3 linked regions of the Homo sapiens genome follow. The protein of the gene in region 1 interacts with the protein of each later gene in a biochemical or structural test. Each region holds a gene or a part of one and is shown on either strand. Other genes may lie near its edges.

Region 1 (7,833 bases):
TTACCCACATATTTATTAACAGCAAACCAGTCATTAGCATTGTTTCTATAGATACTAAATTAACTAAAAGTATCCCTTATGGGAAATGAAGGGATGGGCCGAATTAATTGCAGCAGGAACACGTCCTTAAGACACAGATCACTCATGCTTTTGTTTGTGGCTTAAGAATGCCTTTAAGCAGTTTTCTGCCCTGGGCGGGCCAGGTGTTCCTTGCCCTCATTCCTGTAAACCCACAACCTTCCAGCTTGGGCGTTAGGACCATTATGGACATGTCGCAGTGCTGCAGAGATTTTGTTTATGGCCAGTCTTGGGGCCAGTTTATGGCTAGATTTTAGGGGGCTTTCTCCCAACACAAAGTAAGTAGAAGAAAAGAAATAATAAGGATAAGATAATCGGTGAAAATAGAGTACCAGAAAATCAGAGAACAGTATCAAAGTTAAAAACTTGTTTTTTGTTTTTTTAAAAAAGAGCAAAATTGATAAACCCCTAGTTAGGCTGATGAAGAAAAGGAAATAACACAAATTACCAATCTGGAATGAGAATGGGGCTATCACTGCAGATGCTACAGACATTAAAAGGCTAATAAGGGAATATCATTACCAATTTTATGCCAATCATCTCAACAAATCAGGTGAAATTAGTGAATTCCTTGCAAAATTTTACTTACTGAAACTGACCAATATAAAATAGAAATTTTGAGTGTCCTATATGTTAGAGAAATTGAATTTATTGTAAAAAATCTTTTCATCAAGAAAATTCGGTCCTGACCAGCACAGTGGTTCATGTCTGTAATTCCAGCACTTTGGGAGGTTGAGGTGGGCAGATTGCTTGAGCCCAGGAGTTCAAGACCAGCCTGGAAACATGACGAAACCTCATCTCTACAGAAAGTAGAAAAATTACCCAGGCATGGTGTTGTGCACCTCTAGTCAGTTCCAGCTACTAGAGAAGCTGAGGTTGGAGGATTGCTTGAGGCCAGGAGAACAAGTCTGCAGTAAGCCGAGGTCATGCCACTACACTCCAGCCTGGGTGACTAAGACCCTGTCTCAAAAAAAAGGAAAACTCTAGGCCAGATGGTTAAATTGATGAGTTGTATCAGACATTTAAGGCAGAAATAAGATGAGTCATAATAAAATTTCAGAAAGTTAAGGAGGTAGGCCAGGCACGGTGGCTCACACTTATAATTCCAGCAATTTCGGATGCTGAGACAGGAGGATCGCTTGAGGTCAGGATTTCAAGACCAGCCTGGCAATATAGGGAGACCCCATCTCTATAAAAATTTTAAAAAATTAGCTGGGTGTGGTGGTGTGTACCTGTAAAGTAGTTCCAGCTACTTGGGAGGCTGAGGTGGGAGGACGGCTTGAGCCCAGGAGTTTGAGGCTGTAGTGAGCTGTGATCACACTGCTGTATTACAGCCTGAGCAACAGAGCAAGACTGTCTCCCACCAAAAAAAAAAAAGTTAAGGAGGCGGGAACACTTTCGAAATACAGTCATGTGGTGCTTAATGACAAAGATACATTCTGAAAAATGTCTTATCATGCAAATTTCATAGAGTGTGCTGCTTACATAGACCTTATAGCCTATACACACATAGGTTGTTTAGTATACTCTATTATTCCTAGGCTACAAACCTGTACAGCATGTTACTATACTGATTAGGTAGTTGTAACACAATGGTAAATATTTGTGTACCTAAACACAGAAAAGATACAGTAAAAATACAGTATTATAATCTTAACAGCACTGCTGCTATATATGCAATCTATTGTTTACTGAAATGTTATGCAGTGCATGACTAATTTTATGAGGCCATCATAACCCTGATAAGAAAACCCAACAAAGACATGTTTTTGTAAAAAAGCAAATTACTGACCAAATATGTGATTAGCATAGATAAAACAATTAATATGTTTTTCAAATCCAACAATGTATAAAAAGGATAATAAAGCATGACCAAGTGGAGTGTATGGAATGCCAGTTTGGTTTAACAGTCATAACTTTATGTTGGCTGGGCATGGTGGCTGAGGCCTGTAATCTCAGCACTTTGGGAGGCCTAGGTGGGGGGATCACTTGAGCCCAGGAGTTCGAGACCAGCCTGGGCAACATAGCAGGACCTCACCTCTTTTGTTATCTCTCACTTCTTTTTATTTAAAAAAAAAATTAAAAAATTTATGTGTGCTTTTATATGATCAGTTAATTAACAAAAGTACAAAGGCAGCTGATCAAAGAAAAAATTATCTTTTTAACAAATGGTGCTGGGACAACTGGATGTCCATATGCAAAAAAGAACCTCAATTCAAACACCTCACCTTATACAAAAGTTAGCTTAAAATGAATCATAGATGTAAACTTCTAAGTACCTCTAGAAGAAAACAGGAATCTTTCTGACCTTGGATTAGGCAAAGATTTCTTAGATAGCACACTAAAAGCGTTATCCATGAAAGGAAAAATTGATTAATTGGACCTTATCAAAATTAAGAACTTATGTTCTTTAAAGACACTATAAAGAGAATAAAAAGACAAACCAGCATATTTTAAAAACTCTTGAACAACCTAAAAAATCCTGTATCTAGGCTGGGAGCGGTGGCTCACGCCTGTTATCCCAGCACTTTGGGAGGCCAAGGTGGGCAGATCATGAGGTCAGGAGATTGAGACTATCCTGGCCAACATGGTGAAACCCCGTCTCTACTAAAATATAAAAAATTAGCGGGCATAGTGGTGCGTGCCTGTAGTCCCAGCTACTCAAGAGGCTGAGGCAGGAGAATCACTTGAACCCAGGAGGCAGAGGTTGCAGTGAGCGGAGATTGCCCCACTGCACTCCAGCCTGGCGACAGAGCAAGACTCCATCTCAAAAAAAAAAACAAAAAACAAACAAAAAAACCCTGTATCTAAACCATCAATTTTTAAAGGAGCGAAAGTTTTGAATAGACACTTTGCCAGAGAAGATAATTGGATAGCAAATATGCACATGAAAAGATGTTGAACATCATTAGTCATTAGGAAAATGCAAATAAAAACCACAGTGAGATGCCACTGCACAATCAATAGATTGACTTTTTAAAAATCAATTGAGAGACATGGAGCAGTTCTAACTGCTCCACATTGCTCATGGGAATGCAGAGTGCCACATTCACTTTGGGAAAGTTTGGCAGATAAAATTAACATGTACTTAATATATAACCCAGCTGTGCCATTTCTAGGAAAATTTATGTTCACAGAGAAACTTGTGTCCAGTTTTTAGTGGCTTCAGGGGTGATGGAACTTGATTTTGGTGGTGGTTAAATGACTGTTCTTTTTTTTAAACACAAAGAACTTAACACTAAAAGTGGTGAATTTTACTATATGTAAGTCATACAATTTTTAATGAAAAAGAATGCTCAGAATCTGAAATAAAATCAGTGTATATGAACAGAATATAGGAGGAAAACTACAACCAATTTAATAGATGTGAAAGGGCATTTGACAAAATTTGTCACCCATTCATAATAAGTCAGCAAACAAGAACTAAAAGGGAATTTCCTAATCTGATAAAGAGTGTCTAGAAAAACACCACAGACATGCTGTCCTCCAGTATTGAGAACAAGACATTCACTCTCACCACTGTTACTCAGCATTGTACTGGAAGTCATTGCCAGGCACAGGTTTGTAGGTTTCAGCCATTTTTGGCTATTTGACGTTGACAAGTTACTTAACCTTTCATGGGTTTTAGTTTCTTCAGGTTAAAAAGACTGGGGGGCGCTGTGGGAAAGAGAGTGATAATCTACCATGCAGGATTGTTGTGAGGGTTCAAGAAGATGTTTAAGCACCTAACATAGTTACTTGTATATGGTAGTCATACAGTAGATTAGATAGTTTTAATTTGTTCAGTGTGTGTGTGTGTGTGTGTGTGTGTGTGTGTCTTCTGTGACGATAGCCTCTTTCCTTAAACTAAATGAACATCTTAGTGAATTTTCCTATTCTGGAGAAGGAAAAGGAAGAAATAGGGGAAAGATAGGCATTTGACTACCTTTCATTTGGATAATTGAAAATTATTAGTTCTCTCCAGTAAGGTAATGGAATATATATAATTACCTGATAATAAAAATTTATTTCTGAAAACAATTCAGAATCTCTCATCTTGTACAGATTGAGTATCCCTTATCCCCAAATCCAAAATGCTCCAAAATCTGAAACTTTTGAGCACCAACATGACACTCAAAGGAAATGTTCATTGGAGCATTTCAGATTTTGGATTTTCAGATTCGGGATGCTCTAACTAGTAAATACATTGCAAATATTCCAAAATCTGAAATCCAAAACACTTTTGGTCCCAAGCATTTCTGATGAGGGATACTCAGCCTTGTAATACTTATGCAGTATTTTGTTGATAGGATTTTAGTAGGAAATAATTATAAGTATGCCAATCAAACACTTAATTTGGTCTTCAAAGCTGGTTACAATAGTACAGTGGCATCTGGACAGAGATGATTTTTTCACAATTTTTTTGTACAGGATATATTGATTTGTCAAAAAGAAGAGTTTCTCCAGAGGAAGCAATCAAATGTGAAGACAAATTCACAAAATCCAAAACTGTAAGTTGATCTTTGAGTCAAATTAGTCCACTATCTGTGTGTTTAATAAATAATTTGAAATCTTAATTTCATACTGCTACTACCTTAAAGTATTGCTTATGATCTAATATTCTCAAATTAGTACTAGAAGTGTTTTGAAGCCGTTTTAGGTTAAATTAACTGTGGGTGACTTCAACTGCTTTAACTTGTTTACAGTTGGAATGCCTCATAAAATACGGGGTTTTTTTGTTTGTTTAAATAGAAATGAGGTCTTTCTATTTTGTCCAGGTTGGTCTCAGACCCTGAGCTTCAAGTGATCCTTGAGCCTCAGCCCTCCAAAGTGCTGGGATTACAGAAGTGAGCCAATGCACTTGGCCAAAATACAGTTCTTGATTTTCAACCCTGTTCTGGGATGAGGGTAACGGAGACAACCAGCTGTTATATGTTAAGAATGAACAGGGGTTTATAAAATGTCTGTGAATCCAGGAAAGCAAGGCAGAGGCCTGTTACTAGTTTTGGTTTTTTTCCCCCTCCACTAGCGTGTTAGGATTATTTCTTTTTGCATTCTTATTTTTGCTATTACTTCCTGCTTGTCATCCACAGTAAGCAGCAGCAAAGCAAAGATAGCCATTTAATTTCTTCTGTCAGTATTTCTCTTTTCTCAGGTCCTGTTTAAGTTATCCTTCATCCTCTACATCCTCAGTTCTGTGTGTGTGTGTGTGTGTGTGTGTGTGTGTGTGTGTGTGTGTGTGTGTGTCACAAAGTCTTTCCCAGACTGGAGTGTAGTGGCGCAATCTCAACTTACTGCAACCACCTCCTCCTGGGCTCAAGCGATCCTCTCGCCTCTGCCTCCCGGAATGTTTGAGATTACAGGCGTAAGCCAGTGTGCCCAGCCTATCCTCAGTTCTTAGTGGTACTGTTTGTATTGCTTCTGTTTTCTTTGCCCTTCTCTGGTGTCTGTTCTTTTCTGCCATGAGTGTTTCTGTCCTCAAGATAAAATATCAAAAAAAAAAAAAAGTTTCAATGAAGAGATTTTAAAAAATCTTGCTTAATCCCAGTAAGAGAGAAAATAAAGGTCTAAAAGCCATCAGTTACCCAAATCATTTCCTTTGTTTTACTGATGTATTTACAGTTATGCAGTGTGGTTTACACATTTGAAAACACTGTCAGTAAAATATCTTCTTAATAAACTCTAGGACCTTACCACTTAGAATGTAGTCTCTAAACTAGCAGCATTGACATCACCTGTTTTTTTAGAAATACAGACTCTCAGGTCCTACTAACTTTTGAGAAGCACTTTTCTGGGAAAATTTCATATTTTTTTGTCTCCTTAGGATATTGTTAAAATGAGTGTGTTAATAGATCTTATTGAGATGTTAAAATGGAAGAGTTATTCAGTGTCAGTACCTTTTCTCACTCAATTTTTATGTGTAACTATGATGAAGACCTTAATACTTTTTGTCTACACCCTGTTAATTTTAGGAGGTAAGAAAAAGTTTGGCAGGTGGGTAAGATGACAGAAAAAAAATTTTTTTTATCGTGATTCTCTCCTCAGGGAGTAATAATAACAACTTGTATTTGTATAGCCGTTTTCCATTTATAGTGTGTGGTTTCTATATATTTGATCTATGCGAGCACTCTGTAGTAAGGAGAGATGCTAGTTTCTTCTTTTTCCAGAGGAGGAAACAAGTTCAGAGATACTGTGTTACTGTCAAGACTTGATCCAGGTCTTAGGACCCTAAATTGTATACTATCTCTACTTTTTATACCCACTTAAAGTGAGTATTTCCCTATGGAGATCTTTTATTGTTAAGGAATTATTGTAGCCAAATTATGTTATTTACTAAAATGTAAAAACATTTTTTATAAATCTCTTATCTTTGAATTGTTGAGCTTTTCATTTTATTTCTAGGTTTATAGCATTCTTCGTCATGTTGCTGAGGTGTTAGAATACACCAAGGATGAGCAGCTGGAAAGCCTATTCCAGAGGACTGCCTGGGTCTTTGATGACAAGTACAAGAGACCTGGATATGGTGCCTATGATGCATTTAAGCATGCAGTCTCGTAAGAATACCTTCTTGACTCTCCTTCTACCTTGATATCACAACTCTTGGCCTGATATTTAACAGCATAGCATCCATGTATAAAATACTTGCCAAATTTAGATTAAAATATTTTGTATTGGCCAGTAAATGGGCCAATCCTATATGGTCAAGTCTGTGTAGTTTTATGTATCATAGTTATGTAGATTCATAAACCATATGGTTTATCTCACACATTTTCCTTTCCTAGTTATTGTCCTAAGTGGCTATGGGACTAAAGAGCATGTCTCACCAAAAACTATAACCTCTTGTTTTCTCTACCTCTTTTGACTCTCCTTTGACTTTCAGCCCACACCACTTTAGCCAGTCTTCCATGTAGCCTTAGCCTGGGCCTTACTATCACCGGGATTTGCTCTGCCACTAAAATCTTTAATTCACACTTTCTGTTCTTTTGCCCCTGCCTCCTATTCATCTAGCTCCCAGTTGGTCCTATTATTTGTCATCTTAATTCTGTATGTTAGGATCTGATTCCAAACCTTTTTTCTCCCTGTCTTTTCGCCATTTCCTGCCTTTTCTCTCTTATCCAACATAGGCACACCATGATACATCATTTTAACGACTTTGTTGCCATTATTGTGAGCTTTTGCCTTGTTTTTCCTTCCATCCATCCAGCCTTGGATCAATGTTCCTGCCTTCTCTGTACTTGTAGACTGCTGGGTGCTACTAGGAAAAATCAGTCTTGCAGGTTGGTCCACTGCATATTCATGGTCTCCAGCCTCAGCTGTTCCACATTCTCTCTGCTCCTGGTCAGTTCTTCAGTAGTGGCTATTTTAGAGCTTTTCCACGTTCTTCCTCAGAAAACCACTCTATCCCTGCTCCCTGCCTCTTGGCTGGTATGCTCACTACCTATTTTATTTTATAAAGAAAATAGAAACCATTGCACAAGAACTACTTTTCCACTGTCTCAACAAACTTACATATCTCTGTCCCACCTGTCATTTCTTCCTATGCTGCTGTCACTGGAATTTGTGTCCTAATTGCTCTCAAACTAGTCTTGCCACCTATGCCCAGCTGCTGCTCAGAGATCTCTATTAGTTACTTTTTCTCTTGGGTCACCTTTCCCTTTATTGCTTTTACTCCATCAGCATAAAAATATCTCTAGTTTCTTCCATTTATACTATAAAACCCACTTCTCAACTTTTCCTTTACTTTCTCTTGGAGCAAACACTGCGTCCTCTGCTTTT
Region 2 (7,874 bases), on another chromosome or scaffold:
TTAAAAGATGTTCAAAATCACTAGTCGTCAGGGATATGCAAACCAAAGCTACAATGAAATGGCATCACATACCTACTAGAATAGTTAGAATTAAAAAGACAATTACCAAATGTTGGTGAGGATATAGAACAACTTGAACTCTCGTGCACCACTGGTGGGGGTATAAAATGGTACATCACTTTGTGAAAATGCTTGGCAGATTCTTATAAAGTTAAACATCCATCTACTATATGAGCGAGTTATTCCACATCTAGGTATTTACCCAAGAGAAATAAAAACCTACATCTACAAAAAGACCTGTACGTACATAAATGTTCTCATAGTAGCTTTATGTGTAATCGCCAAAAATTGAAAATATACCAAATGTACTCCAACAAGTAAATGGATAAAGAAACATGGAACATATAAAGCAGAGTACTACTCAGCAGTAAAAAGGAACTAAGTATTGCTACATTCAACAACATGAATAAATTTAAAAACATTATATGGAGTGAAAAAAGTAAGACACAAAAGTACATACTGTATGACTGCATTTATTAAAGATGCTAGAATATGCAGACTAATCTATTGTGATGGAAAACAGATCAGCGGTTACCTAGGGGCCTCGTGTAGGAGGGATTGACCACAAAGGGACACAAAGAATCTCTTGGAGTGATGGGAATGTTCTGTATCTTGACTGTGGTATATACATCTGTCAAAACTCATCCAAATGTATATTTCCAATAGGTTCAGTTTATTGTACATGTATTATACTTCAAGAAAACTGATTACACATTCTTCCTTTCATCCTCACTAGCAGAATCCTCATTTTGCTTAGCAGCAGCATGGTCTGGCCTGGGAAATGTCAGTGAAAATTCCTTGGTGGTGCTTCCTGGAGAGCTCTTTGATAGGGGCAAATTCAGGTGGTTACATGCCTTTTGTCATTCCTCTTTGTCCTACCTATAATAAAGAAATGATACTGGAGTTGCCATCCCAAAACAGTGAGACGACAGGCAAAAGGAACAAAGTCACCCATGAAGCATGGAGAAACAGAAGGAGCATAAGTTTAAATAAAACATCACTGTAGAGCTGTGGTGTCAGTAAAAAAAAAAAACCCACTTCTTGCTTCACCCACTATATGGCAACGTTTTTGTTATTCACAATCAAATATCATTTCAACAGATGCAGTCTCTCTCTGTTAAGGGATTGAACTCACTGTTTCTAAATCTCAGACCTATTTTGCTGATTTTTTGGGCCACACTCAGTTGTAGAATCTTGGTTGTTTTGGGCAACCCTGGCTCAGGGTACCTGAGCACCAGCTTCTTTTCCTGGCCCAGCCTCACGGGCCAGCTCTCATGCCCGGTCCCCACTTTCTTACATTTCCCTGAGGCACCCAGGTTCCAGAGTTCCCACAAAGTCACTGTGAAGCTCCATGCTGTCCTAAAGCAGGTAGACTCTCTTTTCTCTCCTTAATTTATTTTCCCAGTCAGCACACTTCGACTCAGGCTTTTTTTCCAAAATGGAAAATTTGTGTTTTGTTCCCAAGTATAAAGCTTGACTCTCCTTACTGGCATTTTCCACCACTGTGCTCTTCTGCCCGCGCCTTTTTCATCATAGCACTTATCTCAGTTTTAATAATATATGTGTGATTGTTAATGTCTGTCTCCCTAACTAGATAGGTGTTAACCTTCAGAAGGGCGGGAACCACATCTATTTTGTTCATATCTTTATTCTCATTATTTGCAGGTGGTCATGTGGAATCCCTGAATGTTAAATGAATAAATAAAACTTCCACAGTATTTACAGGTGGCAAGTAGACTCCTAATTCATTAGTTCAGATTAATAGCCTTGTTCATGCCATGATCATTTTTTGAAAAAATTACAAAACCATGAAGACCAGGCCCACTAAAATATATACACTAATTTCAAACAGGTAGTTAACAATCATTTTTCATCTTATGTTAATTTTCTGACACCTTCCTCATACCAACTAGTATAATCCCTTTTAGGTGGGCAATTTTATCTCCTATTTTGTTGAGTAGATAATGGTCAATTGGTTTGAGTTCGCTCATCTATTTTCTCTACTTTTCAAAATAACTTACTCTCTAGGAATACCTCCTACGCTCTACTTTCAACATGGAAGGCAGAGCTGCCCCTTTTCCTCCAGATACTCTGGAATCTTGCTCTCGTAATCAACCCCCTCTGTCTACAGCAACTGCAGTCTCTTCCTTTCCAGTTGTCTCTTTCCTTCTGTCCTCAGGTATTCATTCATTCATTCATTCATTCAACAAACATTTATTAAATGCTTGCTAAACACTTTGCACTGTTTTATGTCTTCGAATACATCAATGAGCAAATCTTCACAGAATTTACATGCAAGTGGAAGGAAACACAGCAGACAATAAACAAAACAAATATGTAAATTACAGTATTTACATATTTGTAATGTATGTATCGGCTAAGCAGAAATAAAGCAGGAGAGAAATAAAGGAAGGAAGGTGGTGGAGGTTTTAATTTTAAATAAGGTAGTGAGGAGGGACTTCACTGGGATTAGCAAAGCCTCAAATAAAGTGAGGGAACATATCTTGTGGGTACCTGGGTATTATGTGCTAAATTGTGTCCCTCCAAAATTTACATGTTGAAGTCCCAACCTTTAGTGCTTCAGAATATAACTATACTGTATTTGGAGATAAGATCTTTAAAGCAGTGATTAAGTTAAAATGAGGCTGTTAAAGGTAGCCCCACACTCCAATCTGACTGGTGTTAGAAGAATAGGAAGAGACATCAGAGGGAAGAGGAAGTAAGAGGGCTGTCATCGGCAAGCCAAGGAGAGAGGCCTCAGAATCCCACCTTGATCTTGGACTTCTAGCCTCCAGAACTTCGAGAAAATAAACTAGTTTTGTTCAGGCCACCTGGTCTGTGGTATTTGTTAGGGCAACTCTAGCAAACTCATATACCTGGGAAGTTTCCTAGGCAGGCAAAACAACAAAGGAAAACCCCCCAGGTGGGTCTTGATTGGCCCAGTGGAGTGAGCAAAGACAGTATGAAATGAGATCAGAAAAGCCATAGGAACCAGATGCTGTAGCACCCTGTAGTCTATTTTAAGGACTTGACTTTTATCCTGAGTGAACTGGGGGACCTTTTGAGGGTTACGACCAGCACTATGGAGAAGCAAGAAGACCGGTGAAAGGTGTTCTAGACAGGAAAAACTTGAGTTGCTGGATCAAATACAGCTGATAAAACAAAGATTATCCTTTGAATACAGCACTGGTGGCCTCAGCGAGAGCAGTTTTGGTGGTGTGAATGCCTGACTGTAGTGTACTTGGGAATGGGAGAAGAGGAATTGAAGATAAGGAATTTTGAACACTTGAGTTTTGCCATACAGAGGAGCAAAGACACGTGGTAGGAGCTGGAAGGGGAAGAGAGGTTTCTTGTTTGTTTTGGGCTGGGGAGAGATTAGAGCATGTTTTTAGCAGATGAAGGATAATCTAGGTATACCCATATTGCCAACACCTTAACAAATCTTCACCGGTTTTGGACCAGGTGCGGTGGCTAATGCCCGTAAATTGCAGCACTTTGGGAGGCTGAGGCGGGAGGATGGCTTGAGGCCAGGAATTTGAGACCAACCTGGGCAACACAGAAACCCCATCTTTACAAAACAAAATTAAAAATTGGCCTGGCATGGTGGCACGCATCTGTAGTCCCAGCTACTCCGGAAGCTGAGGAAGGAAGATCGCTTGAACGCAGGAATTCAAGGTTATAGAGAACTATGGTCAAGCCACTGCACTCCAGCCTGGGCAAAAGAGCAAGACCCTCTCTCTAAAAAAAAAATTTTTTTTAATGTTCACTGGTTTTGATGCGGGTAATAGCCTCCCGGCCAGTCTCCTCCTCGTTGATGCTGTCACTGCTGAAGATGCATTTTCTTATCACTTCACTCATCTGCTCAAAAATCTTCAGGAAGTCTTGACTTGCAGCATTAAAAGTTCAAATGCCTTGGCTGAACATTCCAGTCTTCTCCACTCTGCCCTTTTGCAATTTCATCACTGTCTTTGGTGAGGTACAAAGCGTGCCAGGTCAGAGTCAGAAGACATGAATTAAAGTCATGATTCTGTGACCAACCAGCTACGTGATCTTAGGCTAACTACGTCAGTGCACTGGGCCGGGGCTCCTTCCCGTTCCTAAGGAGGCGGGAGGCGTGTCGGGCAGACTGGATTGTCACAGGTCACTGCCATCTCTAACAAGCGGACTTCTGAGCCCCGTTGCGGCCACAAGTAGGACCATCTCCTGCATCCTCCTTACCCTTCTACTTCTAGGGACCACACGGCTTCTGTGGCCACTTCTTGCTGCTTCGCTTTTGCCTTCCTAAGTAGACTAGGCTTTAGAAGAGCTACAATACCAGCTCCTTTAAGGTCGACCTCCTCCCGGTCACAAGGCACTTGCCTCCCACTCTTCACTTGGGACAGTCCTCTTCACAGTCAGAATCCGCCACGTAGTAAGTGCCGCTTCCAACCAATCAAGAGGCAGTTAGCGCAGACCTTTGAGGGACATCCACTTCCACCAATGATCTTCAAGTCTTCTCCAGCGCCTCGCTTTGTGGGGCGAGGCCAACCACCGCGATGGCCAATCTGTTGTAGGAAAGGTATTCCGGGAACTGATGAGCGCACCAATCAGGTAAAAAGACGTCGGGGAAGGGCATTTCTCATTGGTAATTGCGTCCGGAAGAGGGACGGGCCTCGAACGACGAAATTACGATTTGATTGGTAGGTGCGATGTTGACCACCAGGGAAAGTCCACCTTCCCCAACAAGGCCAGCCTGGGAACATGGAGTGGCAGCGGCCGCAGCCAATGAGAGAGCAAACGCGCGGAAAGTTTGCTCAATGGGCGATGTCCGAGATAGGCTGTCACTCAGGTGGCAGCGGCAGAGGCCGGGCTGAGACGTGGCCAGGGGAACACGGCTGGCTGTCCAGGCCGTCGGGGCGGCAGTAGGGTCCCTAGCACGTCCTTGCCTTCTTGGGAGCTCCAAGCGGCGGGAGAGGCAGGCGTCAGTGGCTGCGCCTCCATGCCTGCGCGCGGGGCGGGACGCTGATGGAGCGCGCCATCAGCCCGGGGCTGCTGGTACGGGCGCTGCTGCTGCTGCTGCTGCTGCTGGGGCTCGCGGCAAGGACGGTGGCCGCGGGGCGCGCCCGTGGCCTCCCAGCGCCGACGGCGGAGGCGGCGTTCGGCCTCGGGGCGGCCGCTGCTCCCACCTCAGCGACGCGAGTACCGGCGGCGGGCGCCGTGGCTGCGGCCGAGGTGACTGTGGAGGACGCTGAGGCGCTGCCGGCAGCCGCGGGAGAGCAGGAGCCTCGGGGTCCGGAACCAGACGATGAGACAGAGTTGCGACCGCGCGGCAGGTGAGGGGCTGCCGACCCGGGGGAGGCAACTTGTTTACGCGCGCGAGCCGCGGAGGATGCGGTGTAGGGGGGCGGAGATCCGGGACCCGGGCGGGCGTCTTCCCTCGGCTGCGGAGGGCAGCTGGCGACCTGGGGACGAGCGCGGGGCCACGACGCCCTCCCATCCCCCGGCCAGCGACCTGCCTGGGCTCGGCTCCCGAGGGCCTGGTGCTGGCCGACGGGTCAGAGCAGCATCCTCGCAGGTGCGGGAGAATGGAATTCCAGGGTTGCAAAGAAACGCCACTTCCCCTCTTTCATTGTTTTCGGGCATTGATTCTCTTCCAAGGAACCTTTCCCTCTTTTTCCTTACGCACATCACCTCCTGTCTGTGCTGGCGTGACAGCTGTTTTGAGAAAGGACTTTAGCAAAAGACGTCTGCATTTTCTTTCAAACACAACTCTGTAGTGCCCCCGGACAAGGATTGAGATCAGTGTCTAATTGAGATCTGCGGAACACCTGCATCCGAATCACCTGGGGTTGCTGGTGAAATCTACAGTTTTCTAGGCCCTACCCCAGTTTTACTGAATGAGACATTCCCTGGGTAAGAGCCTGGCATCTGCGTGTTTAACAAGCACGCCGGATAATTCTTGCACGCTAAAGTTTAAGAGCTATAGTCAGATTCTTGAATATTGGTTCTTGAACCTAAGAGCCATGGTTAGGTTCTTGAATAAGGGGTTTACTGTATAAACATTTAATATAGGGTTTTCTTTGAGTTTCTCAGCATTCAAAAAATGTTACTTCAAGGTGATTGTTTTAAAGCACTTTTCAAAGTCTAGACACAATGTAAGGCATGTTAACAGTAAATTTGGGGGACAGCCAATCTTATCACACCCGTGGAGAAAGTGATGTCCCATTTTATAAATGGAGTGCTAAAGGGAGCATTAAGTAAATTAAACTAGGGAAGGCTGGGCTCTGGATTGGAACATATTTTAGACTTATAGTCATTACTAGATCGTAACAAGTTAGATTTAATTTTAAATTAATATTAGAACTTTGATCTATATATCTGGAGACTACTATAAATAGGATAAGTACTAAAATTCTCTAGGCACCATTTGAATATATAAACATTTGTAAATATATATATATAAAACAAAGTTTTCTTAGGTTTGCTAATGAGTCAGTTTTCCTGGAAGAGTGTTTTTGTTTATCATAAATTTCTGAAGCTCCTGCTCAAAATGAATTACATGAAGTAGAGTTGAGACGTTTTCTTTTTCTTAGAATTCAAATCCACTTCAACAGGTACTTACTGGTTAACAAGAGCCCAAGGATGCCCTGGGTGGCAGAGGTTAGGCAGGTAGTTCCTGCCTTCCAGGAGAGTGTGCAGTCTAACAGTACGGATGAAACGAGAAGACCTATAACAACATTACAGACTAGAAACAGTGCCAGTGTCAGGGATGTCCCAAGGTTTTTGTGGTGTTCTACTAGGTGAGGTATGGGAGTGAGGGTAGGTAAGAAGATAAGAGAAGGTTGTGGCAGAATGAGTTGGTTCCTGAAAAATGGGTAAAATTGTAATGGAAAGTCACTGGACTTGAGGAAACAGCAAGAGGCACAGAGGCCGGAGATTATGTTTGGAAAACATTTTGTCTCTGTGTATGTCTGTGTGTGTGTGTGTGTGTGTGTGTGTGTGTGTGTGTGTGTGTACGTAAGCGATATAGACATGCACATATGTATGCTAGGCAGGGAGAAGTAGATGAGGATAGAAAAAATAGGTTAGAGCCGACTGTATATGCATATAGTCTGATGCTAATAGCATCATTGTCACTTGGGAGTATGTTAAAACTCCGGAGTGGGGCACCACCCCACACTCCCTGAATGAGAGTATCTGCATTTTAACAAGATCACCGTGTGATTCACATGCACGTTAAAGTTTGAGAAATGTTGGGTAGAGTATCCTGAGTGCCAGGCTTGATCAAAATTACACCTAAGGAATGTTTCTCTAGCAATAGTGTGTACTGAAAACTTGAGTTAAGAATACCAAAAGGAGAGTGTTATAGCAGTTCAGATGAGAGGTTTAGTGTAAAGTGGTATAGGACAGAGGGGACAGAGTTGAGATATTTGATGCAAAATCTAGGTTCCTGGCAAGTGAATGCATTCTTCCTTTCTTGGTACCCTTGTCCAGAGATTGAGACTGCGTGGCCAGAAGTTGACAAAAGAGGTTTAAGGGAGCAGGGAAGAAAAGGTAAGGGGTTTGGTGTTGGACATGTGACTCGGAGGTGCAGGCAGGACATCCAGAGGGAGGTAGGCGGGTGGAAATGAGTGACTAGAGCCAGTGAGAAGGCAGCATAAATATGAATAGGTGAAGCTGTGGGAAAGGGAAAGCTCATGAGAAAACCTCAGGAAATGCCTTTTATTTTAGGGAGGAAGATGAGCCAGCAAAGGAGACAGAAATACAGCTGGCTAGGTTGGAGGTACAGGAGGAGGACTGGGAAGAAAGATTTGGCGATGAGCACACTTAAAGAG
Region 3 (7,000 bases), on another chromosome or scaffold:
GAGAGTTACACAGGGTGATGACTGTATTAATGATTCCAAAATTACCTGGGTCCCTACTTCAGTCATAAGGGAAGTAAGTTTCCTTGAGACAAATTCGAATGTCAAGACAGTGGGAAACATAGGAAGAAAAAGTTGGTAAAAGTTGGAAGATAAATTCTAAAATAACCCACTGACCAGCCTTTTGATCAGCTTCCAACCAGCAGAGTGCTTTTTAGATAAATTATGTCTTAACATGAATTTTTATGGGAAAATCTTTCATTTGCACCCAAAACCCAGAAAAGAAACAGGCTCTAAAGCTGTGCTGTCCAATGTATTAGCCACCAGCTATATGTGGCCATTTACATTTAAATTAAAATTAAACAACATTTAAAACGTAGCTCTCCAGTCTCATTGCTCATGTGGCAGGTACACACTATACTGAACAGCACAGATCACTGGAGGGTGCTGTTTAAAGTCACAAAGACCAAGTTACTTACAGATTTCTAAAAGTACAGCCAATACATAGTGGATAATAAAATACCTCATCACATGGAGCACTATGATGCCAGAAACAGTATCTGACACGTAACATCTGGCAATCAGTATTTATTGATATCATTTTAAATAAATGACTTGAGAAATTAATAAGATGTTACATCCTTTTCTCTTTTTTTTGAGAGGGAGTCTCGCTCTGTTGCCCAGGCTGGAGTGCAATGGTGCGATCTTAGCTCACTGTAACCACCACCTCCCAGGTTCAAGCAATTCTCCTGCCTCAGCCTCCTGAGTAGCTGGGATTACAGGCACCCGCCACCACACCCAGCTAATTTTTGTATTTTTAGTAGAGACGGGGTTTCACCATGTTCGTCAGGCTGGTCTCAAACTCCTGACCTCGTGATCCACCTGCCTCAGCCTCCCAAAGTGCTGGGATTACAGGTGTGAGCCACCACACCCAGCCGTTACATCTCTTTTCTTTCCTCTGAGTCACAAAATTATACTTGGTTCAAATTAAAAAAAAAAAATCAAAATTATCACAAGCTAATACAAATCTAAATATTTCCACCAGAAAAACAAGGTATTTCTCTCTCCATTTTATTTTGGTTATCATTTTGGTCTTCTAAGGCCATCTTATTTCTAAACAGGCTAATTCTTCCCTGATGCGTCCCCCAGCACCCTGTACTCCCAACCCCATTATGTACTATCGCACCAGTTTATCTGTCTCCACTATCCACCCTCTACCCCTGAACTATACTCCCCCTGAAGCAGAGACAGGACCTAGTAAAAAATGTCTACGTACAGAACGTGCTCAATAAACAACTCCTAAATGAATGACAGAACAGTTACCACCTGTGACTTGGTTAAAAAATAAATATTTGGAAAATTACCAACACAACCATTTTGAAGATCTATAAATATTAGTCATGGACTTACTATTTCTCTTCCCTTGGTTCATCCGAAGCACGGCAATTATTGCAGATTCAATATTATAATTTTCAGCTTCCAGGTTCTGGACTATTAAATTAAAATCCTATCCAAGAAACAAACAAACAAAAAAACCACTTCAAAACTCTGGGTATATTTTTCTGCCTAGCTCTACTTCAATAATCATAAACATAAAGATGTAATAGTGAGAATTAACACAAGGTTTCAGGACCTTTTCCATTTAGAAAAATGTCGATTTCCAATAAGGTTGGTCCCTTGAAATAACCGTCTAATGTACACTTATAAATGAATTCCCTCTATAAAACTGCATTTGTACTACTGTAAACACTAGTCAGGAAAAATTAAATCCACATACTTCCTAAGACCTTTGAGCAGTACTGGGTGAAGTCTAGCAAACAACAGGGAAATTAATAAACAGCTCTCATTAAGCCACATACACTAATCAAACTACAAATCTCATGGGCCTATTTTGGCCCACAAGGTGCTGATATGCTAGAGAGGTGCTACGAAACTAAGAAGTAAGCTAGGCACAGCAATGCTTGCTTCTAAATCATTCCTGCAAGACAGAAATACTAACTGAACATCCAGTTGCATTACAAACTTTCTGGACAGCATCCTCTACTTCATCTCTCAGGTCGTCTTCAGAGTCCATTCCCTTTGTCTTGATCTTTTCTCTTTTATTTGATTCATCTTGATGAAGCATCTGAAACTAAAGGAAACAAGTAATAATCAGGGAACTATGTTGAGAATCAAACTATGTTCAGAATCTTTAACACAAGACACTCTAATCTGGAAAAATTCATATATATAGGGGAAAACCTTCTAGAAACAACCTTAAGAGAACAGCAATGACTAGGCTCCATTTTATCCACTCATTGTACTTTGAGTCACAACAGAGGAATTGAAAAGAAAGGCCCAAAAGACAGAATAACTGCTCAGTAAGAAAGGCATTCGCACTCCCATGTCTAAATGCCAACACTGGCAAATGACTGCTGCCTCTGACAGCACACAGTCACCTCAGCTGATTTTCAGAGCCGTGAGCTTAACAGAAAACGATCCTCTATACTCGCACCTGGTGAACTTTTGCACAAAAACGGTGCTGGTCTTGAAGAAACCTACATACAACTTCCCTCTGGTTCCCAAGCCTTATTTGATCATCAGCACGCTTAGAGGTACTGAAGCTCCCGTCCCAGCTGGACAGTCACGGATGAGCATGACTCATCTAACCTCAGGTACATACCACCACACCCAGGGAAACTTGTCAATCCAAATCCTAAAGCCACAAACAACAGTTCACTTGGGATCCATGAGACCTTTACAACCTGGGCCTTAAATCAGAAAAGCTAAAATCATCCCTCTGTAGATGCTCAACCACCTTCTTCTTCTGCTTCCCATTGATGCAGGGAGATAGGTAAATGGGCAAAGACAGTTCTATTTTTTGAATGTAAACATATAGTGGACTCCAGCAATGTACAGTATATTCCTCAGAATGTTAATACAAAACATTCTATTATAAAATTAAACCCTAAGAATTTGACAAAGTTACAGGAGTCTTTGAGCCGGTAGTTTCACAGTTTTGAAATTTAGCCAAAGGAAATAATATCAAATAGAGAAAAGATTTATGGGCCTGGTGCAGTGGCTCACACCTGTAATCCCAGCACTTTGGGAGGCTGATGGGGGTGGGTCACTTGACCTCAGGAGTTCAAAACCAGCCTGGGCAACAAAGTGACATCCCGTCTCTACAAAAAAAATACAAAAGAATTATTTGGACATGGTGGCATGCACCTGTAGTCCCAGCTATTCAGGAGGCTGAGCTGGGAGGATGGCTTGAGCCCAGGAGGTGGAGGTTGCAGTGAGCCGAGATCACACCACTGCATTCCAGCCTGGACAACAGAGCTAGACCTTGTCTCAAAAAAAAAAAAAAAAAAAAAAAAAGAGAAAAGATTCAGGTAAAAGTGCTAACAGTGTTACTTATAGTGGTGAATAACTGGAAACCACCCAAAGGCTTTATAGTATGGATATGGTTAAATAACCACTGTAAATCCACAGAATGATGTCTTCATTCCCACTAAAGGAAGAAACACAATAATCACTCCCCCCATTATTACTTAACAATATTTTGGAGGTAACAGCCAAAGTATTTAGCCAAAATAAATTTTAAGTATAAAATTAAAAAGAAAAAAGTAATCTGTCTTTGTAGATGATATAATTCTGTAACTGAAACAAGAGAATCAACAAAAAACTACTGCAAACCAAAAAAATTACAGCAAATCATATACCTGGGTAAGAATCTAGCATCTAGAATATATTAAAAAACTCTTACAACTCAAAAAGGCAGAACCCAATTAAAAAATAGGCAAAAGACTTGAATAGACATTTTTCCAAAGATATACAAATGGCCGAAAACCACATGAAAAGATGTTCAATGTCATTAGCTATTAAGAAAATGCAATTCAAAACTTTAAGATACTGGCCGGGCGTGGTGGCTCATGCCTGTAATCCCAGCACTTTGGGAGGCCGAGGTGGGTGGATCACGAGGTCAGGAGATCGAGACCATCCTGGCTAACACGATGAAACCCTGTCTCCACTAAAAACACAAAAATTTAGCTGGGCGTGGCGGTGGGTCCCTGTAGTCCCAGCTACTCGGGAGGCTGAGGCAGAAGAATGGCGTGAACCCGGGAGGCGGAGCTTGCCAGTGAGCCACGATCGTGCCGCTGCACTCCAGCCTGGGCGACAGAGCAAGACTCCGTCTCGAAAAAAAACTTTAAGATACTAACTAGGATGACCATTTAAGAAAAAAACATTTGTCAGAGAGGATGAAGAGAAAGCAGAGCCTTCATACATTACCGGTGGCAAGTAAAACAGTGCAGCTGCTGTGGAAAACCGTTTGGCAGTTCCTCAAAATGTTAAATTTAGGTTTATCATATGACCCAGCAATTCCACTCCGAGGTATATCCAAAAAGACTGAAAATAGGTATTTGTAAAAATACTGTACACATATACTCACAGCAGCACTATTCTCAATAGCCAAAAGGTGGGAACAACCTAAATGCTCATTAACAGATGAATGGGTGCACAAAAAATCATCTCTCCAAACAATGGAATATTATTCAGCCATAAAAAAGAATGAAGTACTGATACATGCTACACCATGAATGACTCTCAAAAACATTATACTGAGGGAAAGAAGCCACAAAGAAAAAGTCACATATAATTCCATTTACATAAAATGTCCAGAATAGGCAAATTCATAGAGAAGAAGGGCAGATTGGTGACTGCTAGGGGAGAGGGGGAATTGGGAGTCACTGCTTAATGGATATGAGGTTTTCTTTTGGGGTGATGAAAATATTTTGGGACTAGACAGAAGAAGTGGTTGTACAACAAACACTGCAGATGTACTGAGTACCACTGGACTATATATTTTTAAATGATTAATTTTATGTTATGTGAATTTTGCCTTAACTTTTAAAAAAAGAGGGGTTCTGTGGGATACCTATGTAATTAACATCTTGTTATTAACAGCTCTCACAGACAAATGATAACCAACTAGAAAACATAAAAGATCTCTTTACAATAGACACAAAAAACACAAAACACCTCCTAAGAATAAACTCAACAAAAAGTGGGCAAGATCTATATGAAGAAAATGTTCCTGTGGATCACAAAGTCAATTAAATAATAAAAGACTCAACATCAAAAAGATGTCAGCTTTTCCTTAAATTACTCTATTAATTTAATGAGATTCCAATTTTAAAAAACTCAATAGGGCCGGGCACGGTGGCTCACGCCTGTAACCCCAGCACTTTGGGAGACCAAGTTAAGCAGATCACTTGAGGTCAGGAGTTCAAGACCAGCCTGGCCAACACGGTGAAACCCCGTCTCTACTAAAAATACAAACATTAGCCAAGGGTAGTGGCGAGCGCCTGTAATCCCAGCTACTCGGGAGGCTGAGGCAGGAGAATCGCTTGAACCCGGGAGGCAGAGGTTGCACCACTGCACTCCAGCCTGGGCAACAGGGCAACAGAGCAAGACTCTGTCTCAAAAAAAAAAAAAAAAAAACAAAAAAAAAAACCTCAATAGGATTTCCTTTGAACTAGACACATTGATTCTAACATTCATTTTGTTTTTTTTAAAAAAGACAACATATAAGGAAACTTATAAAAAGAAAATTAATTATGAGTGAAAAATCCTACCAGATTTTAAAATATACCAACTAAAACAATGAGGCATCAACATGTGAACAGGGAGATCAGTGGACCAGAACCAAATGTCTAGGAATAGACCCAAATACATATGGGAATTTAGTATATGGAAAGAAAGTGGCATTTTAAATCAGTGGAGAAAAGATGTATAATTAATCAATGGTTTGGGTACAACTAGGTAATCACAAGGGAAATATAAAGTTGGATCCATAGCCTCCTACCCTTATTTCAATATAAATTTCAGATGAAGCCAAGATTTAATTTTTTTTTTAAGTCAAACTATGAGCTGGGTGCAGTAGCTTACATCTGTAATCTCAACACTTTGGGTGGTCGAGGCAGGAGGGTTGCTTGAGTCCAGGAGTTCGAGACCAGCCCGGGCAACAAAGTGAGACCCTGTCTCTACAAAAAATAAAAAATTAGCCAGGCATAGTGGTACACAGCTGTGGTCCCAGCTACTCAGGAGGATCGCTTGAGCCTGGGAGGTTGAGGCTGCAGTGAAACATGATCATAGCACTGCACTCCAGCCTGGGCGACAGAGTGAGACCCAGTCTCAAAAAATAAATAAATAAATAAAGTGAAACTATGAAAGTACTATTCTAAACTATGGGAGAATTCTTTTTAACCTCAGAGTGGGAAAGACTTTCCCAGTTATGACCCAAAATCCAAAGGGCATATAAGAAAATCGTAACAAATTTAACTATGTAAAAATCTAAAATTCTTTCATAGCAAAGACCACAGGAGAAAGAACAAAAAGACAAATGACAGAGTGCGAAAAACTATTTGCAACTCATATCACAGACAGAGGCTAATTTCCCTAATACATAAAAAGCTCCCCAAAATCATTAAGACAACTTAATAGGAAAAAAATGGAGAAAGAAAATGAATACCATTTACAAAAAATAGAAATATGTCTTAAACACAGGAAAAGATGCATAAATAAGAGAAATGCAAATTAAAACTAGGTTAAGTAAACAATTTTTCCCCTAACAATGAAAAGGATTTAAAAATTTGGTAACACTATGTTGACGAAGTGCACCGTGCAGGAAAAGAGCCACATATTGCAGGTGGGAGTTTAAACCGGTGAAATCTTGTTAGAACGTAATTTGACAATTCACTTATCAACATCCTCTGATGTGGCAAGGACCTTCTAGGAATGTGTCCCACAGATACATGAGTGAAATGAGGTACATAAAAGGTACTGCACATTGCTTATAATAGCAAAGGGTTAGAAACCACCTAAAAGTCCATCAGTAAGTGACTGGTCAAAAATATTATAATGCATCTACAGAACAGAACACTACGCAGCCTTTAAAAAGGATACAGGAAGTTCCTTATGTACTACCATGAATTAAATCCCAAGACATGTTAAATTTAAAAAG

The links. Proteins that work in one complex are often made in the same cells at the same time.
Region 2: of the proteins of EIF2S1 (region 1) and EIF2AK3, one has a biochemical effect on the other in vitro, tested with the Homo sapiens proteins (one study listed by BioGRID).
Region 3: the proteins of EIF2S1 (region 1) and OTUD3 form a complex in vitro, tested with the Homo sapiens proteins (one study listed by BioGRID).

Annotation. Positions count from the first base shown.
Region 1 is NC_000014.9:67,369,980-67,377,812, forward strand, and holds part of EIF2S1 (eukaryotic translation initiation factor 2 subunit 1), read left to right. Parts: intron 1-4,488; coding exon 4,489-4,568; intron 4,569-6,459; coding exon 6,460-6,611; intron 6,612-7,833. UniProt on the Homo sapiens protein: Member of the eIF2 complex that functions in the early steps of protein synthesis by forming a ternary complex with GTP and initiator tRNA. This complex binds to a 40S ribosomal subunit, followed by mRNA binding to form a 43S pre-initiation complex (43S PIC).
Region 2 is NC_000002.12:88,624,465-88,632,338, reverse strand, and holds the start of EIF2AK3 (eukaryotic translation initiation factor 2-alpha kinase 3 isoform 1 precursor), read left to right. Parts: upstream 1-4,874; 5' UTR 4,875-5,064; coding exon 5,065-5,372; intron 5,373-7,409; exon of another isoform or gene 7,410-7,593; intron 7,594-7,874. UniProt on the Homo sapiens protein: Metabolic-stress sensing protein kinase that phosphorylates the alpha subunit of eukaryotic translation initiation factor 2 (EIF2S1/eIF-2-alpha) in response to various stress, such as unfolded protein response (UPR).
Region 3 is NC_000001.11:19,899,395-19,906,394, reverse strand, and holds part of OTUD3 (OTU domain-containing protein 3), read right to left. Parts: intron 2,129-7,000; coding exon 1,997-2,128; intron 1,505-1,996; coding exon 1,408-1,504; intron 1-1,407.